Linked DNA regions of Homo sapiens: all the other regions are linked to region 3. Evidence: fine-mapped expression QTL. A gene starts in region 3. Each other region holds a variant in brackets. All regions are shown on one strand. Distances are between the middles of the regions.

Region 1 (5,457 bases), 210 kb after region 3:
ATCAATAACAGAATTATTGTATTTAAAAAAAAACTAATACTTATCTTTAAAATAGTAAATAGGATTTTAAACAGAGAATTTTATCAGTAATAGGTGTCAGTTTTTAAAAAATTGCTTGTAGGCTGAGCGCGGTGGCTCACGCCTGTAATCCCAGCACTTTGGGAGGCCAAGGTGGGTGGACCACATGAGGTCAGGAGTTTGAGATCAGCCTGGCCAACATGGTGAAACCCCATCTCTACTAAAAATACAAAAATTAGCCGGACGCAGTGGCACGCGCCTGTAATCCCAGCTACTCAAGAGGCTGAGGCACGAGAATCACTTGAACCCGGGAGGGAGAGGTTGCAGTGAGCCAAGATCGTACCACTGCACTCCAGCCTGGGTGACAGAGTGAGACTCTGTCTCCAAAAAAAAACTTTGCTTGTATATTATTTTTGCCTTACAGTGGATCATTCTAGTAGGAAAGGACAATAAGATTTTTTATCAAAATGTGTCATGCCAGTAAGAGATGTTATATTCTTTTCTCATTTCTTCCCCACCCAAAAATAAGCTACCATATAGCTTATAAGTCTCAAATTTTTGCCTTTTACTAAAATGTGATTGTTTCTATTCATTGTGTATGCTTCATCACCTATATTAGGCAAATTCCATTTTTTTCCCTTGTGCTAAGGTAAAGATTTAATTAAATAATTTTGGCCTCTCATAGTTTTCTCTCTCTTTAAAGAGAATAAATAGAGGGCCAGGTGTGGTGGCTCACGCCTGTGATCCCAGCACTTTGGGAGGCCAAGACGGGCGGATCATGAGGTCAAGAGATCAAGATCATCCTGGCCAACATGGTGAAACCCTGTCTCTACTAAAAATACAAAAATGAGCTGGGCATGGTGGGGCGTGCCTGTAGTCCCATGTACTTGGGAGGCTGAGGCAGGAAAATTCTTGAACCCAGGAGACGGAAGTTGCAGTGAGCTGAGATCACACCACTGCACTCCAGCCTGGTGACAGAGCAAGACTCCGGCTCTTAAAAAAAAAAAAAAAAAAAAAAAAAGAGAGAGAGAGAATAAATAGAAAAGAATGTGGCTGGGAATTGTGAATCAGAAGATTATACCCCCCAATTGTTTTTCAATCCCCTTTTCTCAAATAATAAATTAGTTAAATCAGTTTCTGAGTTATGCCACTGGCTGATGAAGAGTTGAGAGGTCTCTTTGCAGAATGATCTTTTTGTTTCGTTTTGTTTCTTCTTCTGCATTTAAAAATTAAAAGATTGGTTTGAGGATGTGATGAAATTGAGACTTTTTGTGGTTTTCTCTCAATAATAAGTGAACCAATTTCAAATGTGATCACAAAGTTTGGAAAGCTTTTATTCACAGAGGTTGGGTAGTGTTGGGAGGGGAGTTTAATTACTCAGATTGGCCTGTTATTTGATTTCCTCCTTTGGGAAAAGAATTATGTAGATACCACATGGAGACAGGGAAACAATTGTGGTAAAACTGTGGATCCTGTTGCTATTTGCCCAGTGAGAAAACAGATTCTGGTATTTGATTTGGTTTTTCTCTTTGTTTCCAGAATGGATGAAAGTCCATGAACCTCCTAAGTTATAATTTAAATTTGTTTGGGGCAAGGTGATTTTATAGTCGAGACAGAGCCCTAGGTCCTTCCTGCCCCATCACTCACTTACGACATCACTTCCATTGTGTGCATGTTTGTTATAGAGGAGGTTTTAGGCTACAATATTTGTTTAACCTCCCTAAGAACTTTCAAGGCATCTGTCCTGAAAGCTGTTAATTTATGGTCTAGCAGATTTATATTATATGCAGATAATAATTAACTGGGGATAAAAGAATGGCAAGGGGTGACACAAAGTAGCAAACTGAATACTTCTCCAATAGCAACCCCAAGCTACCTCCTCACCCTGCATCTTGGAGGGAGGCAGGAAATTTCTTTTGAAATAAAGTGCTGGAGCTGAATTCTGCATTATTTATCGTTGCTGCTGAAACCACCTATAAAAGACTTGCTGGCTAATGTGCATTGTCATATAATGTACACTGTCACATCTTTACAGTCTTGTATGTTATAGAATACAAAATAAGTTGATGGTTTTGTTTGGTGTGAGCTTTTTGTTTGTTTGTTTAGTTTTGCCTTCATAGGTTATATGCCAAGATAGTATTTGATAAGTCAATGACATTTGGATGTTTTCTTCAAAGAATTTTATTTGACCCAGATTTCTTATAAAGTTATCTTACATTAAGGATGTCATTTTCATCAGACCTTCTTTCTACATATTATTCATGAAGCATAATGTTGCATTTCTCCAAATTTTATGCCTGAAAGGGTAGTGTTGCTTCCTAAGGTATCATGTTGTCTTTGTGCTTTGTCCATCTCTTCCGTGGCGAAGCTTTATATCTGTTCCTAAAACAGTTAATCCTGTGAAATAAATATTGAACATAATCCAGAAGAATCTCTCTGTTTCCCTTGGGGAATGCCATATTTAATTCACCAGCAGTAATCCTTTAATAACTGGCAGAGCACTTTATTCTTCTGGTGAGCT[C/G]CCTGAATATTTATTTTTCTGATTATAAATTTTCTATATTAGTAGCATTTTTTAATTATTACTTCTTCACTATAGAGCATTTACTTTTAGTCTCTAGATGTATATTTTGGAATGCTGTACTTGGCATAACATAGATTAAAATCATAATGCATGACTAAAAACTCCTTGGATTTATTTCCCATTTTAAAATTTTTAGCGGTAAGTTCAGATTTATAATCTTTCTCTAGACTTCCATGGTCTGAATGTTGCCTGCTGAAGTAGCAACCTAAAAAGTATCCCCTGCTTATGCTTGTCCAGTTGGCCCTCCATGTCCATAGGCTTCGCATCTGTGATTCAGCCCACTGTGGGTCAAAAATATTTGGGGAAAAAAATGGATGGTTGCGCCTTTGCTGAACATGTACAAACTTTTTTTTGTCATTAAACAATATAGTATAACAACTATTTACAAAGCATTTACATTGTATTAGCTATTATAGGTAATCTAGAGATGATTTAAAGTGTATGGTAGGATGTGCATAGGTTATATGCAAATACTACACCATTTTCTATAAGGGACTTGAACATCATGGACTTTAGTATCCTAGGGGGTTCTTGGAACCCATCACCCATAGGGGCACCATAGGACAACTATAGTACCGTGTTTATTTCCTATTAATTCAGGTTCCGTTTAGAGTCTAAAACTAAAACCTAATCATTTAGTCACAGTGTAAAAACAAATGGAAATAACAGCTCAAATCTTCAAAATATTACTATAGCATTATGTTTAAAATAATCTACAACAAAAATGTACCATTTTCAAGCAGTACTACATTAGGAGCCCTTTTATAGAAAATAATTTCTTCTTTACCCCCGTTCCAGTGTGAATCTAGTATTCTGTTAACATTTGTGTGGCATTTGGAGTTTGTCATCCCCATTGAAGGGAGAGCCTTCTCAGACATGAAGCAAGGGAAACATACTGAATAGTTTTACACAAATTTGATCTGGCTTCCATTTGTCCCCCTCATTTCCCAAATGTTTAAATGTATTGGATTTGGATTCTCAATGTATAAGTTGCCTTATCTGTTAATGTCTATCTTCTGTCTCTTTAATTTTGTATATCTGCTGTTTTGCTTTTGGATACATTTTCTAATTAGAAGTCACATGATAAATATAATCAGTATAGTAATAATACCATAATGTGCACATACTCAATAAATAAATGACTGCATTGTTGTAAATGAGCTCTCCTTTTTGTTGTTGTTGGTTGGCGAGTGGTTTCCATCAAGTCATCATGGGAAAATAATCAAGTTCCATATTCACAGGTTAGGATAGGATGTAATAATTCTCAGAAGAACCCTTCTAGTATGATATTTGCTTATCAAAATGTCTCAGAAACAAAATATTTGAAAATACTGTCACATTTATTGTATTTCTCTCTGTTCTTATGCCGTGCATGTAGAATGTACCCAATGTTTATGAATTAATAGATAAATAAGGTCTATTGTCTTTTGAAAATATTTATTGCTGAAATGATTTATTGGAACAACCTGTCATATCAAACATCATATTAGAACATAATCAAAGAACATAAATCATCATCCATATTTCCACATTTTGCATTAGATATTGGGATGCTTAACTCATCTCAATCTCATTAACTGACTATTCCACAACTAGGTAGGCTCACCTCTGCCTCATTTGTTTATTAGTTTAAGATATTTTTCCAACTGTATAAAGTTAAGACAGATGTTTCTGTTGCACGCTCTATGTTGGGAATAAAAGAGAAATTCAAGTCTATTTGCTCACAGTATATTAAACTCCAGAAGCCAAACTTTTAAGAGCATCAAGTCTGCATCTGACATTTTAATAGCTGCTGTTTGGTTTCTATCAATCACGTCATTGCACATTAAAATGCACCGACAAAATAAGAGATCTGTCATTCCTTCGTTAAGAAACAGTAATCCAGTACAAGATTTATAGGCTTAAGTCTCAACCGTGTGTTCACAATAAATCCCCATTCAGTGCTCAAACCAGAGCAAGCCTCCCTGTCGTTCAGTGTTTTCTAGTCGAAATGTCCCCAATATAAGATTATCAAAGGTTTTCTTACAGAACTACATATAAAATCCTTTTGCCAGCAAAAGCTTAATTTGGATTGGCGGTTTCCCTTTTTGGGTATGCTCAGACAAGATCTTGGTTATATCAGAAACACATAGGTACTGATGTATTATTAGCAGGCCTGGTGTTAATTAGGGAGAATTACCAGAAATAGTTTGCTTCGTGGAAATTTATTGCAGAATCACACTTGACTGATGGCAGAATAGGAGTTGCTGAGAGAGAGCAGCTCCCACTCATAACCACTAATTAATAGGGTGCCAAAATTCCGCAGAGAAAGTTTCATCCCAAGTGTGGGAGCCTCCCAGGGAAAATGGTTCTTTTGCAGTATTTAAAATTTAACAGAGGAAAGGTGCTAGGACACATGGCTACCTAACAGAAATCTCAGACTGATATGGTTTTGTGTTGTACGTATGAATGAGAGGATTTAACTCAGTAAGTACCGGGCCCAAATGTTGCCTGTGTATTTATCGTATATGGAGATATGCATATTATTTTTAATGCGGCAAGTGCCTGATTTGCCAAACTATTCATTTTCTGAGGAGAATTTACAGGACTGTATACCATTTGTCTATAGTATTATATTACAGAACTTTTGATTCTGTGATTTAGAATCTGTCTGGGTAGGTGGCAAGATTGCATCAATGATTAATAAGAAAGGTGTAGCCTTCATACCTTGAACACAGGGTTGGGGAAAAGTGAGATGCATTTTGTGATTTTCGCTAAAGGTAGAGCACTAGGGGAGCCCTTTTAAATAGAAGTTTGCCAAGAAGGCAATTTTTTTATTTTGTCCTGTCTGTGACTGCATGTAATAACACACAATAAAG
Region 2 (5,457 bases), 200 kb after region 3:
AGGTAAAATGAGGTCAGTAGGGTGGGCCTTAATTAAATTTAACTGGTGTCATTATAAGAGGAAATTGAGACACTGACACATATTGAGGGAAGACCATGTGAAGACACATGGAGAAGATGGCCATCTATACACTAAGGGGAGAAGCCCTCTTGACATCTTGGTCTTGAACTTTAGCTTCCAGAACTGTGAGAAAATAAATTCTTGTTGTTGAAGCCACCCAGTCTGTGGTACTTTGCTAAGGCAGTCCTGGCAAACTAATTCAGTTTATAGTCTAATAAAAAATACAGACAAGCAAATCAACAACCAAATTAATATGGTAAGTCGAACAGAGATGCATCTAGGATTACATCAGTGCAAAAAGGAGAGGTAAGGATTATCCAACTTTAACAAACCAATTTATTTTATTTGAAAAGAATGGAAAGCAGTAAGGTTCAGAAGTCTATTCATAATCAAATGAATATTTTGTACAACAAATGTCCATTGAAAACTTCTATGCAAGTTACCATACTGGCACCATGGTATATATTTCTAGTCTACCCCGTGCTCACACCCGAATGATGGGTGTGACTGGAAGGAATCCCACAATCACACTAACCAGTCTCCTTTTAAATTCATCACTACTAATCTCAGGTATGTTCCTTCTTTTCCCTGGGTATATTCTTAATAGTAATGAAAGACTGCTGTTTCTCTAATATGTTTACTTTCCCACTTTCCCCAAAAAACCCATTTCACATCTTCTTTCTCCTCAAACTTCTAAAATCTCCTTTCCCATCCTCACTATTAGCTGATGACTTTGATTCCTCTTTCACTTTTTTATGTAGGAAAGGGAACAAAAAAGGCATACAACATAGAGAAAATAGATAGCAAAATGCCACTAATAAATCCTACTTTATCAGTAGGTTACATTAAACATAAATATATCACACACTCCAGCTAAAAGAGAGAGTGGAAGGGTAGATAAAATTATGATCTAACTATAAGTTGTCTACAAGAGACACAGTTTAAAATAAAAGATACAAATATGTTACAAGTAAAAGTATAGAAAAAAATATATTATGCAAATAGTAACCAAAAGAGAGTGAGAATGACTGTACTAATATCAGATAAAATCGATGTTAAGACAAAAAAAATTACTAGAGACAGAGTAGTACATTTTATAATGATAAAAAGCTCAATCCATTAAGAAAATGTGAGTTATAAACACATATTTACCTAACAGCATCAAAATAAGTGAAATAAAAACTGTCAGAATGGAAGGGAGTAATATATACAATTCAATAATAATAGTTGGAAACTTCAACACTCCATATTAATTAATAGATATAATTGATTACTGGTCAGAATAGCAAAAAGAACTAGAAAACTTGAACAACACTAAATACCAAGTATACTTCACCAGATATCTATAGAACATTCCACTCAGCAACAGCAGAATCCAGCAGAATATATATTCTTCTGAAGTGTATGTGGAACATTCTCCGGGATAGACCATATGTTAAGTCATAAAACGAGTTTCAATAAATTTAAAAGGACTGAGATCATACAAAGTATGCTCTCTGACCAGAATGGAATGAAATTAGAAATCAATAACAGAAGAAAATTTGGGAAATTCACAAATATGTAGAAATTAAAAAACACATTCCTTAAACAACCAGTGGGTCAGAAAAGAAATCACAAGGGAAACTAGAAAATACTTTGAGCTGAATGAAAATGAAAATGTAATATACCAAAACTTATTGAATGCAGCTAAAGCAGTGCTTAGATGGAAATTGATAGCTGGCAAATGTCTGCATTCAGAAGGAAGAATCATCTCAAATCAGTAACATTGCCTTCTACCTTAAGACTCTAGAAAAAGATCAAACTAAGTCCAAAACTTAGAAGGAAGGCAAGAACAAAGATTACAGCAGAAATGAATGAAATCGAGAATTTAAAAAAAATCAATGAAACCACAAGTTGGTTCCTTGGAAAGATCAACAAAATTGACAAACATTGGCTAAACTACCAAGAAAAAAAAAAAGAAGACTCAAATTACTAAAAATGACACTAAGGTGTCTCACAGGTTTTTGTTTTTTGTTTTGAGACTGAGTCTCACTCTGTTGCCCAGGCTGGAATGCAGTGGCAGGATCTCAGCTCACTGCAGCCTCCACCTCCCAGGTTCAAGGGATTCTCCTGCCTTGGCCTCCTGAATAGCTGAGGCCACAGGCCTGCACCACCATGCTCGGCTAATTTTTGTATTTTTAGTAGAGACAGTCTGGCCTCGAACTCCTGGCCTCAAGTGATCCGCCCGTCTCGGCCTCCCAAAATGCTGGGATTATAGGCGTGAGCCACCGCACCCGGCCAGTGTCCCACAGTTTCTGTGTCATGAGTCTATGGGTTAGCTGAGTACCCTGCTCAGAATCGCACCAGGCTGAAATCATGGTGTCAGCTGAGCTGAAGTTATCATGTAGAGATCCAGATCTTCTTCCAAGCCCACGCAGGTTGTTGGGCAAATTCAGTTCCTTGCAGCTCTGGGACTGACGTCCTTATAGGCCGTCCCCACCTTAGACAGTTCACAACATGATTGCTTTCTTCCTCAGGGCCAGCAGTAGAGCCTCTCCTGTTGCTTTTTAACTTCTTTTAAGGGTTTACCTGATTAGGTCAGGCCCATCCAGGATGATCTGTCTTTTGATTAACAGTATCCACTGATTAGGGGATGTAATTGTTTTTTTTTGATTTTGGTTTTGGTTTTTTTTTGAGACAGAGTCTCACTCTGTTGCTGACGCTGGAGTGCAGTGGCGCAATCTTGGTTCACTGCAACCTCCGCCTCCTGGGTTCAAGCGATTCCCCTGCCTCAGCCTCCCGAATAGCTAAGACCACGGGCACGTGCCACCATGCCCAGCTAATTTTTGTATTTTTAGTAAAGACGAGGTTTTATCATGTTGGCCAGGCTGGTCTCGAACTCCTGGCCTCAAGTGATCCGCCCGTCTCAGCCTCCCAAAGTGCTGGGATTACAGGCGTGAGCCACCATGCCTGG[C/T]CTAGGGGATGTAATTGTATCTGCACAATCCTTTTTGCTATTTACAGTTATCTAATCACAGGAGTGATACCCTGTCATGGCCACAGGTTCTACCCACACTCATGGAGAGGGTCTTTACTCAAATATCAGAGTGTTCCTGGTCACCTATTTAAATTCTCCCATTTCATCCCTACTTCCTACCTATACCATCTTCCTCTCTGCCCTCCCTGCTTAATTTTTCTTGTCAGCCTTTAATATCTAACATGCCATATATTTTATTTATCTTACTGTCATCTCCCTGCCCTATGTTAGCATATAAGTTCCATGCAATCAGGGCTTTTTTTGGCTTTGTTCCCTGCCAGATTTCCTGTTTCTAGAACAGTGCCTAGCACATATTGCATTTAGTAAAGTCTTGCTCAATTGATAGATGAACTTTTAAATATTTGTAGAATGTATATTAGTGTTGCCAAATTGAAATTATATCTCACTTGTCTTATTATTGAATTACATTTATCCTGCTTTGCAGATTTTATAATAATCTCAAAAAGAATTGACTGTAGTTGTCTCCAGTAGACTTTTAAAAAATTGTCAATTAAGGTTACCTTCTTTAGAACTTGTTCTCTTTATTTACTATTATGTTTAAACTCATTTTACCTGTGCATTTATTTTGGAGAAGCAAGTCATTTATGCCTTTCAGATATAAAACTATAGGTGGCCTCACAACCCTTTAAATGTAGTATGTTAAAGGACTGAAAGTTAAAGTTGACATTCAGCGAAAGAATTACTTTTTAATGTTCCAAATTGGAAAGTTTGCATATAATCCACTGGAAATGAAGAATTAAGAGTGACAAATACAGTGTTTCCAAATTTTAGGAAGGATTGTTAATGTCTGCAGTTTTGAGTATTCTAAGACGATAGTCACTGTGTTTCTCTTTTACTCTCTTCCTGCTTGTGTCTTTGTGTGTAATCGTTTGTGAATGTATTTATGTGCAGTTTCTCCTGATTATCTTGTTCCTATTTCACTCTATTCCTGTGGCTGTGTTGTTCTTTTGCCCTTTGCTCACGCCAGGCCCTTCCTCAATGTTGGCAAATACAAAAACATAAAAGTGGTTTGTACATTTGTATTAGTATATTTAACTAAGTAGAATATCAGATTCTGTTTTTATTCTTGAGCACGTCAGTTTTTTTATAGCTTTGGGAAACTTGTTTTTTACTTCTATTGATACAGTAATTTTCAGTCGAATAAAATCTGTTGTGGTTGGGCTTTGAAAAATTCCAGTATTACAGTTAGTTCGTCATCCATATGATCTTAGGAAAGTTGGCTGATTTCTCTGACGTTTTCTTCATCTACACGTATATGAAAAAGTTAATTTCTGTCATTGGGATTATTGTGAGAATTAAATAACAAAGAGCAGCAAAAAATAAGCATCAGATTTTGAGGCTAAATCCCAGTTAGGTTGTGCCTGTTGAAATCTGAGTTCCTTTCACCTTTGTATTTGTAAGCTTTCCTTTTTCTCTGAACTCTTCCTTGGCATCCTTCCCTACCTTTCCTTTCTTCCCCCCACATGCCCCGCCTTTTTGGATAGGTCTCACAGAAGATAAACAGGGTGAAAAGTTTCATGCCGTAGCTCTTCTCTCACAGCCAACCAAATGCTTTAAATCCCTCCTCTCCCTCCATTTGTCAGTCAACATGTACTTAGTAAGGGCTCACAGGACATCGAATACTAGAAGAGATAGCTGAATACTTAATTCCACTCTGCAGTTATCTAGGCCTGTCATTCCTGTTCACAAATGGAAACCCAATCCTACCTGGAACAAGAAGAACTTCTTTAGTGTTAATCCTGTGTTAATGAATTTGTTAAATTAGTCTTTGCTGACACAGAGAAGAAAACACTTTGCTATATGTGAAAGATTAATTTTATTGTTTAATCTGTGCATAATTTCAAGGGCATTGATGGAGAAAGATGCTCTTTCAGGACAGCCAAGAAGTATCAAGTTAGGCCAGTAGTTGCCCTGAGCATGCTTGTTTAAGAAAGGAGATCTGAGAGGAGCAAGGGTCATTTTCAGCTTGTTTTTTAAAGGTGCAGTGGGAATTTCTTTACTGTCTAAAATTCCTTTTGCTATTTGAAAGGAACTAATGAAATATTTTAAAGTCATCCTTTTAATGGACTGTAGTTTTAATTTATGTATTTATAGTGAACTATATTCCAGCAAGTTTGTAAAAAGACTTTTACAGGTATGTGAAATATAAGATAATCTTATAAATTACAAAAGGGGAAAAAGAATGAAATTCATCGATAGGCTCGTTAAAAATGAAGCTAACGTCGAGACTGGACGATACTAAAATAATGACCTGCCCACTTGCCTCTGGTTAGACTGTAAATCTGGCTTTAGGCCTTCTAGTAGTCTACCAAAAATGAAAGGTAGTTTTGCAATTTACAATAAGATAAAAATAAGACTACTGC
Region 3 (5,457 bases):
CAAAGCCATCTTTTGAAAAATGTGGTGAAAGCTATGGACTGGTGCTGTCCAATGAAAATATAATGTGAAGCACATATGTAATTTTATTTATTTATTTTTTTAGAAACAGGGTCTTCCTTTGTCACCCAGGCTGGAGTGCAAAGACAAGATCATAGTTCACTGCAGCCTCGAACTTCTGGGCTCAGCAATACAAATAGCTGGGACCTGGGACTACAGGCACACTACACGACGCCCAGCTAATTTTTTGGATTTTTTTAGAGATGGGTCTTGCTATGTTGCCTAGGTTAACCTCAAACTCCTGCCCTCAAGCCATCTTCTCACCTCAGCCTCCCAAGTGCTAGGATTATAGGTGTCAGCCACTGCACCCTGCTCACGTAAGTAATTTTAAATTATCTAGTGGCCACATTTTTTTTAAAAAGTGAAATTAATTTTAATCAAATATTATTATTATTACTCTTTTTTTTTTGGTGCGGAGTCTTGCTCTGTCGCCCAGGCTGGAGGGCAGTGGCATGGTCTCGGCTCACTGCAACCTCTACCTCCCGGGTTCAAGTGATTCTCCTGCCTCAGCCTCCCAAGTAGCTGGGATAACAGGCATGCGCCACCACACCCGGCTAATTTTTGTATTTTTAGTAGAGACGGGGTTTCGCCATGTTGGCCAGGCTGATCTTGAACTACTGACCTCAGGTGACCCACCCGCTTCAGCCTCCCAAAGTGCTGGGATTATAGGCGTGAGCCGTCGCGCCCGGCCATAATCATGTATCATTTAACAAAACATAAAATATGATGATTTCAGCATATAATCAATATAAAAATTATTGAGGCATTTTACATTATTTTTTCATACCAAGTCGTCGAAATCCAGTGTGCATTTTACACTTCCAACGCATTTCAATTTGGGCATTATATTTTCAACTTTAGTCCTTAAATGTAGTGCTTAAAAGAAATGTTAACGACCTGGCGCGGTGGCTCATGCCCGTAATCCCAGCACTTTGCGGGGCCGAGGCGGGTTGGTCACCTGAGGTCAGGAGTTCGAGATCAGGCTGGCCAACATGGTGAAACCCCATCTCTACTAAAAATACAAAAAATTAGCCGGGCGTGGTGGCGCACGCCTGTAATCCCAGCTACTCAGGAGGCTGAGGCAGGGGAATCGCTTGAACCCGGGAGGTGGAGGTTGCAGTGAGCCGAGATTGCACCACTGATCCCAGCCTGGGAGACAGAGCAAGAATCCGTCTCAAAGAAAAAAAAAGTAAAGAAATGTTATCCTGCTTCAGTTTTAAATGTTAAATTATTTAAAATTACGTAAAACAAAAAATTCATGGTCTCAGTTACAGTAGCCACATTTCAACTGTTCGATAGCCACATGTGGCCAGTGGCTACCGTTAGGGAAAGAGCAGCTTTGGATCTTCGCCTTTGGAATTTTGCTTGCACTTCTGGGGGCCGGGGAGCTCACGGACCTCATGAAGTTCATCCTTGCTTTATATGCTCCTTGGTTAAGAATTGTCCTTTTCACGTTTTATAAGCCAATTCACAGTGTAACAGTCTAGTTACTTTCCGTATGTTCAGTGAACATTATTCACGTTTTCTTATGAATAAATTCCTCGGGCGTATCAAGCAACCCTATAGAAGGCTGGAAAGTGGACTATTGATTTGGATTTAGAAAAATAAACTGAAGATACAGTGGTTGAATCACTTTTGGCCGCTTTTATGTATCACTGTCTTCTGGTGTGATGGACAGGGTTAACTTCTGTTAGGGTTACTGGTTTTCACCTTCCTGACAGGTAAACTTCTGGGTCTGCACTTTTCAGAGCATGTAAAGCTCTTTCAAAAAAAAAAACGCAGGCAGTAACCGCTGAACTTGCATAGATAGAGATTTATCCAAAGTACCCTTCTATTTTTAGGCAGAGCAACTGCTTGCCAATTTAAATTTCTGGAGAGAAAAATGCACCCACTACAAAACGGACGAGCGGAGGGTTAGACCTTTGCCAGGTAGCGCTCAAAATCCGCTAAGACTACTCCCACCGAAACTCGGTAGCGCAGTTGTCTTTCCGCAGCTGCTTCAGCCAGCCCCAGCAAGCCCGAGCGCCCGGCGCCGCCGCCACCTTCCCCGCCCCTGCGCGGCGCGGCTGGGACTGGCCCAGAGGCGTGGCCGGGAGCGGAGGGGCGTGTCCTGGGTCGGGGGTGGGGCGAGGGAGAGCCAGGAGGCGGAAGTTCCCGCGGGCGGTGGGGACGGCGCCCTCACCGCGAGTCACTTGTCAGCCCTTGTCTGAGGCGGAGGCAGCCCCGCGCCGCGCCGGACCCGAGGTGAGTGGCGGCCGGCCGGCGATGCGCCTCTCGGATCTCCGGTGGGAGAAGGGAAAGAACCGGCCGCTGTGCGCCGAACGCGAGAAGGGAAGCCCGGTTGGGGACGAGGAGGGGGCGCTCCTCGGGCAGGGATGGCTCCTCAGGTGCTTTCTGGGCGCGGAGCGGCGGAGGTGGGAGAGCAGCTTGGGAAAAGGAGCGCCCGGAAAAGGGCAGCGCTGGAGTCCGCATGAGGCCAGAGGGCGAGCCCTGGGGTCCCCGCAGCCCGGGCCGACCGGGACCAGCGTAGCGGAGACGGGGACGCGGGAGGGCGCCCGGAGGTGGCGAGGGCCGGCAGGGACGGGCACTGCCGCTCCCACCCACCCGGCTGCCGGCGTCGCCCGGCACCACCGTGGTGTGGTGTCTGAGTGCCCAGTCCTGCGCCAGTCTCTTGGAGGGTAGGAAGCGGGACTCAAAGGAAAAGGCGCGTTAGTTTTTCTTTGCTCCCAGGCTACTGAGAAGCATTTATTTCTCCCCCAGATATTTACAGTTTTGTGTAACCTGTTTGGGGAAAACTTCTGCGCGTCCAGAAATAAAGCTCGTTTAAGAAACACATTTGTCATGAACACGAGATTTGTTAACACTTGAGTACTTGTTGGGGCTTTTGTAAGACTGTGCCTTCGGTGCGTTTTACAATAAGTGGAAAAAGGAAGGGCGTGTGGACAGGGCAGAGCTTGGAAGGAAAATTCGTGGCGGCGCTGGGCAGGGCAGATTTAGGGTGTGATCGCCAGATCCTATCCCAAGTCCGCCTTCCTGACGGGGAGGACGTCTGAACCCGCCTGCCACGGAAACGGCCCGTTCGGTAGCCTTATTTGGCCAACAAGGCTAGGCGCGAATCCCTCCTGGAAAACTGTCCTGTCGGCTGCTTTCATCCTGTGCCTGTGGCTTTAGTTCTTCAGCTCTACCTACATTCTCTCTCCATTGCGGGGAAAGAGAATCTCAAGATATTTCTCTTTAATTTCAGGCCTTTTTTTTTGTCACTCTGTGTAGTTCATCTTGAGTTCTCCTTTCTCCCCTCTCACCCACTAATGAAGCTGAGATACAAGTGTGGGAAATACCAAGCTTCCTTCCCTAGTACTAGAGCAAAGACATTGTTTAGACTTTCCCTAAAAGAAAATCCATAACTCTACAGAAATTCCAACCTTTTCGACGTGTTTGAAAGAGTATGCTGCTATTTCCTGCCTGCTTGGTATTTGAGGAAGGGCTTGGGCACTAATAACCAGATGGAGGAGTCTTGGAAAGGCCAATAAAAATATTGCCATTGCTTGGGGCAGAGACTGTTTTAAGGCAGATGAATTCCAAATGAAGCTAGCAGAAGAAGCATCTAGAAATGAACGGACAGTGACTAGAAATGAAATGACACTGGTTTTGTAGTGTGGCTGTGACCTTGCCAGTGCTAGGAATTTTAATAACAAATGAGAGAAGTTAGGAAGGGAATCCCCAAGTAAAGGGAAGTTGCAAGTACATGGGTTGATAATCTAAATGAAATACATTTTCTTGTAGGGAAGAATGGGGCCAGAGGAAGTTGAGCCCAACTTTCATATTATTCCCCAGACACAAGTTAAAGATTAATAAAGGAGGGCAGGCTGCCTGTGAAATATCAGTTGGCTTTACACGATTCTGATTTGTATCGTGTCAATATCAGGACAGTCCTTCTATTAGTTTTCTGAAAATCTCCTCCTTTTATAGCGGGAAAGCAATTGAATTATGTGTGGCTCGTTATTAGCTTCCCACTAGTAGTTTTTCACCTATATATACAGTTTGACTTCCGGCTTGGCCTTTGGATCTTTTTTAGTGCTCTGTGCCTATTACTTCATTACTGAAGTAATGTGTTATTGCCTTGTAGTTCAGTATACTACCACGCCAGTAGAAAAGCTGTTTCGGTTTCTGATACAATTTTCTGTAATTTTTATTTTCCCTGATATAATTTTTCTTTAAAAACCAGGCTTATTTGAATGTTTTGCCCCATTTTCCCTTTATGAGAAGAAGGAATGTTTGCTTTAAATATACCTATGGCTCAAATATCTATATCTGCAACTATGAATTTGGGGTGATGGGCTAGAAATTTTGAATGGGTTAAAACATATTTTAAGACAGGTAATATTAGGTGGTGATTTGGTTGAATAGCTTACATTTTCCAAGGAAGTATGTTTTTAATATAAAATTACATATCTGTTATGTTTTTAATATTTTTTAAAGAGAGAGAATTATTGTTTCTTAGTATTCCATTAAAACAAAAGAAAACTTCATTCCTCTGTCTCCTGCCGTTATAACAACCAATAGGAAACTCGAAGTTTTTTTTTTTTTTTTTGCTTTTTAAAAATTATATGAAAGTACTACTAGGAGAGTCATCACACGCACACTTAACAGCAGAACAGACAAAAGAAAGCACCGAAGCACTGGTTCTTTTCTAAACTGCCAATTCCATTTGAATGCATTAACCCAGCACTTTTGCTGTATTTAGTCATAATCTTATTCACTGAGTGGCAAATGCTTACTCTCTGCCTGGTGAGGTGTGTGTATAAAACAAAAAGCAGGTTGTGACTAACATCACTGTACTAGAGTATTGCCTATCGTTGACTATCTGAAGGAAAAGTAGATATCACTTTAAGTGTGGAAAATACCATGTCCCCATAGGAGGAAATACAAGTTGTAGTTCATGATTGGAGAGAATAGTTTTGTGCATTGAAAAACAGCTTCTCATTGTAAAGAATTTAGTATTTGGAAAGCATGAATGGGAGCCTACTGATTTGCAGTCTCTTTCACATGTTAGAGTAACTTAGAATTTAAGTAAGTGCAGTTGAAAGACTCTTGTCAATTGCAGACAAAAGAATACATGAAGTGGAGGGAAGGAGAAAATTATTCTGAATTCAACCTGAAATAAAATCTTGCTACATTAGTGAAGTATTGTAAAGTACTTTGAGTTAAACTTTGCATGCAAGAAGCCACAAAATTGGATTGAAGCAAGTTGTGAAACATACTAAGTGTCTAGAAATGTATTCTGATATGGAATTTTTAGACCATGGAAATTGCCATGAGTGTAGAAAATTTATATTAGCTCACAGATTGCTTTTCTTAAACTGAAATTAATGAAGAACTTAATTAAGACTTATCTTCTAT
Region 4 (5,457 bases), 150 kb after region 3:
TAATTTTCTGGCTCTTTGCCGTGTATGTGTGTGCGCACGCGCGCGTGTGTGAGTGTGCTGGGACTTTTTTCCTTGGTATATTCCCAGCCATGCCTCAGGATGTTTGCGTTCTCAGGGACCCCTGCTTCTCGGCTAGGCACCATGGCCTTAGCTAACTGCCTGGCCCTCAAGTTTCAAGCATTGAATATAACACCCTTAAGTAACCTGGTAGGGGACCCATCACACCACTGATAGATTAAAAATATAAATTTGGAAGTAGAGTCATTTGGACATGGTGAAAGATGATTTGAGACAGAGAGATATTAGAGGTATTAATAACTAAAGGGCAATTCAAAATATGGGCTACTGCTCATAGGAGACAGCTGGGCTAGATATAAATCTGGACATTAGGTGGTGTTAAAGCTACAGGACAGAGTAATGTCACTGTACTAATGATAGCAGAGTACAGAGAAATAAAGCCTAGGACAGAGAACTCTCGGGCAACAGAATAGCCAGTGAAATACTACTAAAAACAGGCAGGTAAATAGGGTTGAGGCACAAATGACAGGAAAAGAGAAGCAGTAGTCAATTGAGCCAGACACTAAGTAAAATGAGGAATGTGCACAAAAAGACAAATATTGTATGATTCCACTGATAGGAGGTATCTAATGTAGTCATCTTCGGGTCAGGCTTAGGAGGTATCTAATGTAGTCATCTTCGGGCTGGGTGTGGTGGCTCACGCCTGTAATCCCAGCACTTTGGGAGGCCAAGGCAGGCGGATCACTGGAGGTCGGGAGTTCGAGACCAGCCTGACCAACATGGAGAAACCCCGTCTCTACTAAAAACACAAAAATTAGCCAGGCGTGGTGGCACGTACCTGTAGTCCCAGCTATTCAGGAGGCTGAGGCAGGAGAATCGTTTGAACCAGGGAGGTGGAGGTTGCAGTGAGCCGGGATTGTGCCACTGTACTCCAGCCTGGGTGACAGAGTGAGGCTCCGTCTCCAAAAAAAGAATTAAAGTAGTCATCTTCATAGAAACAGTAGAATGGTGCTGGTTACCACAGGCTAGGGGGAGGGGGAAGGGGTAGTTGTTCAATGGGTATAGAGTTTCGAATATGCAAGATGAAAAACTTCTGGAGATCTCTTCCACAATAATGTGAACGTACTTCACACTACTGACTGTGCACTTGAAAATCGTTAAGATAGTAAGTTTCATGTTATGTATTTTTTACCACAGTTTTTAAAATGAGGAATGCAAATTGTCCATTGAATTTAGCCACAAGAAGGTCATCAGTGACCTTAGCAAGATGCAGTTTCATAGAGTGTTGGGGGTTGGGGTCTAGTTGAGATGGCTGAAGACTGACAGTCAAGTGAGTATAATGTTATTTCAGAGTCTGGCTGGTAAGTGGAACAGGAAAATAGAAAGTAAAGATAGTCTGTTGTTTTTAAGAGAAACTACTGCATTTTAAAAGAGGACACAAAGCATCCAGTAGAGAAGGAGAGATGGATTAATCGAGGCCACTGAGATTAAGGGAGGAGATGGAGTACACAGCATTAGAATGTTGCTCTTGGGCAGTTGTCCGGACTAGGGGATAGAAAAAGAATTCTTCTTACTGGTCCTACAGGATGGTAAGGATGGTAAATTAGTAGATGGACAACTCACACCTGATTTGCTGGACAGATTGTTCACAAGGGTCCGTAATGAACAAGTGCAGAGATGGTGCAGAAATAGACACAATGCATGAATAGCTCTTTGTTCATGTATCCTGAGAAAAGCAAGCCAAAAGGGAAAGACTTTATCTGGGAAAGAGGAAGTCTTCATAACCCTCTCTGGTGAGAAATGAAAACTCATTTAAGCAAGACAAGGCAGAAAATTTGGCTGCTGCAGATATGCTATTAATCAGAGCTTCCTCCAACCTAAAAGGAGTAAACACTGGGGAATGTCAGAATGAGAACAGATACTGATGTTTGTTCCATAGTAAATGAGGTAGTTTAAGATTTTGTCTTAAGTCAGGTTTTTAGAGTTTGGCTAAGCAATGAAGAGATAATCAATACGTGTAACACATGGGAAACTTCCCAAGTGCGTTTGCTTGGAAGATGACTTGGAGATCATCTTCAAAGGTATTTCATGATTTATATGAAATTTATTCTCAAATGGCACTCAGCTTTTTTCCAATCAGCATATTTCACGGAGATGTTGGAAGACTCAACTTCTCCAACTCACTCCCTTTTCTTTTTTTTTTTAATCTGTCCTGTGGTAATATGTAGATATTGATAATAATTTATAACCATATTTTCTTTTTTCCTGAAATATTTATAAATTTTTAATATTAAAATATTTATTTAAAGGTATTTTGGGAGCACTATTCATTTCTTTCAAGTTATCATGTGTCCACTTAGGCAAAAATCTGTTTAGTCAGAATTGTGACACAGTCTCTAGAAGGTACAAATACTTTTCAATTTACAAATATTGTGAATTCGTTATTTGGAAAAAATAAATTTCAAGCTTTTATTTCACAAATATTTGTTAACTTTATGGTAAGCACTTTGTTACACTTCATGTATATCAGTAACTATTGGTATCAGGGAGCTTCTAGTCTTCTGAGACTGTCTGGATTTAAACAAATAACGACACAAATTGTATAATAATAATAACAAATTATATGAGTGAAAAGTACAGACTGCTATGACAGCACATGACAGGGGCAGCTAAGGTGGCTTGGGGAATCAGGGAGGCTTCTGGGAGGAGGTGACATTTAAACTGAGGCCAGAAGGATGCCTTGGAGTTATCCCAGTGAGGGTGTGGTAGAACGAGGGCTGAGGACAGTGAGGAGTAGGAGACTGTGCAGAGGCCAGGAGGGGGATAGAAGCAGGGCCTATTTCAAAAAGAGATGGAAGGCCCAGTGGACTGGAGCAAGCCAAAGAGAGTGGACAAGCTTCATGACATAATGCTGAAGAACAGGTAGCCCAAGATCACCTAGAGCAGGGCTGGAAGGTCTAAGCAACAGACATGATGGCATTTGTATTTTTCAGAGTTCACTCTGGTAGCTGTGTAGAGAAGTTATTTTCTAGGACAGGGGTCAGCAAATTTTTTTCTGTAAAGGTCCAGATAGGAAATGTGCTAGATTTTTCAGGCCATATGGTCTGTCACAGTTAGTCAGTTCTTATATCATATGAAAGTAGCCATAGACATATGAAGAATGAACCTGGCTATGTTCCAATAAAGTTCCAATAAAACCTTATTTATGGATGCTGAAATTTGAATTTTATATAATTTTTGTGTGTCATTGTATTGTTATTTCGATTTTCTTAACCATTAACCATTTAAAAATATGAAAACTATTCTTAGGCCATACAAAGACAGGCAGGGCCTGAATTTGGCCAGCATGCC[G/A]TGGTTTGCTGACCCATGTTATGGTTCTTATATTTCTTAGTCTCTTAACCTTTCTGCTCTACCTCTTAATGTTTTAGTTCTATCATGACATTTTTCTTCAACTGTCTACGTTTTTTCAACACTCTGGTAAAGGTATGACTAATGTGAAATAAAAAACAGGAATATAACCTCTCCTTTCCTATTTTTTAATCCATTTGAAAATCAGTGTAACATGACTGACCATTCTATTTTTTTATCCACAGACTTTTTTTTTTTAATGGCTAATTTTGTATTTTTCCTGTTTTATTTTTCTTCCCAAAGTTTTATACTTGGTGCTTTCTTTTTTTTGAACTTAACATTGAGTTCTTCATTTTTTCTTTACCTGGCAATAGTTCTTCTAGAACTTACTTCTGGCATTCTATATAAAAAATAATACAGATATCAGAAAATTAAAGTAAAGAATACTCAAAACCCTACGATTGCATGCCACCATCTGTTGTATGAGCAGATAAAATAGTTTGTTTACATCAAGATACACAACATCCATATAACTTCAGATCTACAGACAGAACATTCTGACGTGAAACTTTTGGTTGCTTTCTTGTAGGACACTTTTAGGTAGCTGTCTCACAATGTTCTGGAAAACATTATATAGTGGAAATAATACAGGCAGACCTGGTCCAAATTCCACCTGGCCCTTACTAGATGTATGGTATTGGGCAACTTAATTAACTTCTTGGAGCCTAAGTTTTTTTAAAGCATTCAAAACACGTAGTCAGTGAATGGGAATTTCCACCTCCTTTTCCCCTGTAAGCGTAATATTTTATTACATAGAAGTAGCCATATTAAAGAATTTTGGGGGAAAACAGCCCATATTTTGTGGTGGCAGAAGTGTTGGGTTTTGTTTTAACCATTTGTAGATGTGAAGTAAAAGAAAACCAATAGTGTTCCCAAAATTGAACTAGTAGACATTTAAAAGATGGTATAGATGATAAATGTCTTTTGTACTTTTCATTAATATTTCCTTTGCCTTATATATTTTACTTCTGAAAACTTAGGTTTGACAGTGCTCTGGAAGACCTACCTAAGAGTGGACCTCACCCTCCTGCAACTCCTCAGGTGTTAACTATTGGTAGCCAAGTGGCCACACTTTCTAAAGTAGCAACTACTTATTCTAGGTAGACTCTTCCTTCTTGGTGTTTCTAAATTTCAAAGCTGGTAGTGAATTTAAATATACTAAACTGTTTGAAAAAGAAAAAATGATTGTTGATTACAGAACGGACATCATTAACCTATAGACAAGAAAGCTTGGCACTCAGCCTCAAAACAGCGCTTCTCACTGCTTTTATATTTTTATTTTTGTTTAGTTTATAACTTCTAATATAGAATCAAGAAATCTCTTTCATTTATTCACTTTGTGATTTGGAAAGTTAACTTGCTGGCTTTGTCATAAGTCTCCTTTTCTGAATTAGAGCATTTGCCTCAAAGACAGGTAAAGGTCATACACAATATGTTACCAGGTGCCCAGACATATTCTAAAGATACTCAGATAAGTAACTGCTTATGAGATATAACTAGATTCTGCTGATACTAAATCCTTTTCTATTATTTGTGATGCAATATGATGAAAGAAATTCATTACCGTTTCCTTTTCTTCCTGGAGAAGAAAAAATTAGCTGATTTATTTTTAAGTGATTTTTCAATATACTAAGTTTCTAGTTCTTATTATTCACCATTATGTCTCCAAATAGTAACCATTGTCTCAGAGATGCAGAGTAATGCAGAAACTCAGAAGTGGAATCACATGATAACTTTATTATTCCCTTTGACATTCATGTTACCTACCCTGCTCTGCCATTGATAACATCTTTCTTTTCTCTCTCCAGACCCTGACGTTTTCTTTTCTAACCATTCATTAACAGTTGTTAAAACTTAGCCATACAGTTTAATTTAATGGATAGACTTAGATAGACCAAAAGAAAAATTACTTAATTCTGTATCATTTTGAAAACATAGCTTGCAACTATTTCCTTAATTTTTTTTCTAATCGTTTTTGTAAAGTTATAGCCTGTGGAAATTGGAAGAATGACTTATCAAATTCTTTTGACA

Direction of the effects. Alleles are on the strand shown, and positions count from the first base shown. SD is a standard deviation of normalised expression in the study named. Not every link is listed here.
With allele A in place of G in region 4, the expression in monocytes of the gene that starts at base 2,248 in region 3 is lower (moderate effect, 0.52 SD a copy in Fairfax 2014).

What was found. PIP is the estimated chance that this variant, and not a neighbour inherited with it, causes the effect.
Region 1: its variant is the best candidate, but not a certain one, in a credible set for the expression of PDLIM5 in monocytes (TOPMed, PIP 0.54).
Region 2: its variant is the best candidate, but not a certain one, in a credible set for the expression of PDLIM5 in whole blood (TOPMed, PIP 0.85).
Region 4: its variant is the best candidate, but not a certain one, in a credible set for the expression of PDLIM5 in monocytes (Fairfax 2014, PIP 0.52).

Annotation. Positions count from the first base shown.
Region 1 is chr4:94,664,468-94,669,924 of GRCh38, forward strand. It overlaps PDLIM5 (PDZ and LIM domain 5), which reads left to right. Exons shown (of 13, transcript NM_006457.5): 13 at 1-3,756. Among named protein-coding and RNA genes, the nearest start is that of BMPR1B-DT, 90 kb to the right of the region's middle. RefSeq lists an enhancer at 3,827-5,457. The variant C/G (reference allele first, on the strand shown) is at 2,540.
Region 2 is chr4:94,646,261-94,651,717 of GRCh38, forward strand. The region is part of intron 9 of PDLIM5 (PDZ and LIM domain 5); the gene reads left to right. Among named protein-coding and RNA genes, the nearest start is that of BMPR1B-DT, 110 kb to the right of the region's middle. The variant C/T (reference allele first, on the strand shown) is at 3,014.
Region 3 is chr4:94,449,695-94,455,151 of GRCh38, forward strand. PDLIM5 (PDZ and LIM domain 5) reads left to right here and starts at 2,248. Exons shown (of 13, transcript NM_006457.5): 1 at 2,248-2,301. RefSeq lists silencers at 1,898-2,317, 2,488-2,747.
Region 4 is chr4:94,603,653-94,609,109 of GRCh38, forward strand. All of the region lies in intron 7 of PDLIM5 (PDZ and LIM domain 5), which reads left to right. Among named protein-coding and RNA genes, the nearest start is that of BMPR1B-DT, 150 kb to the right of the region's middle. The variant G/A (reference allele first, on the strand shown) is at 3,370.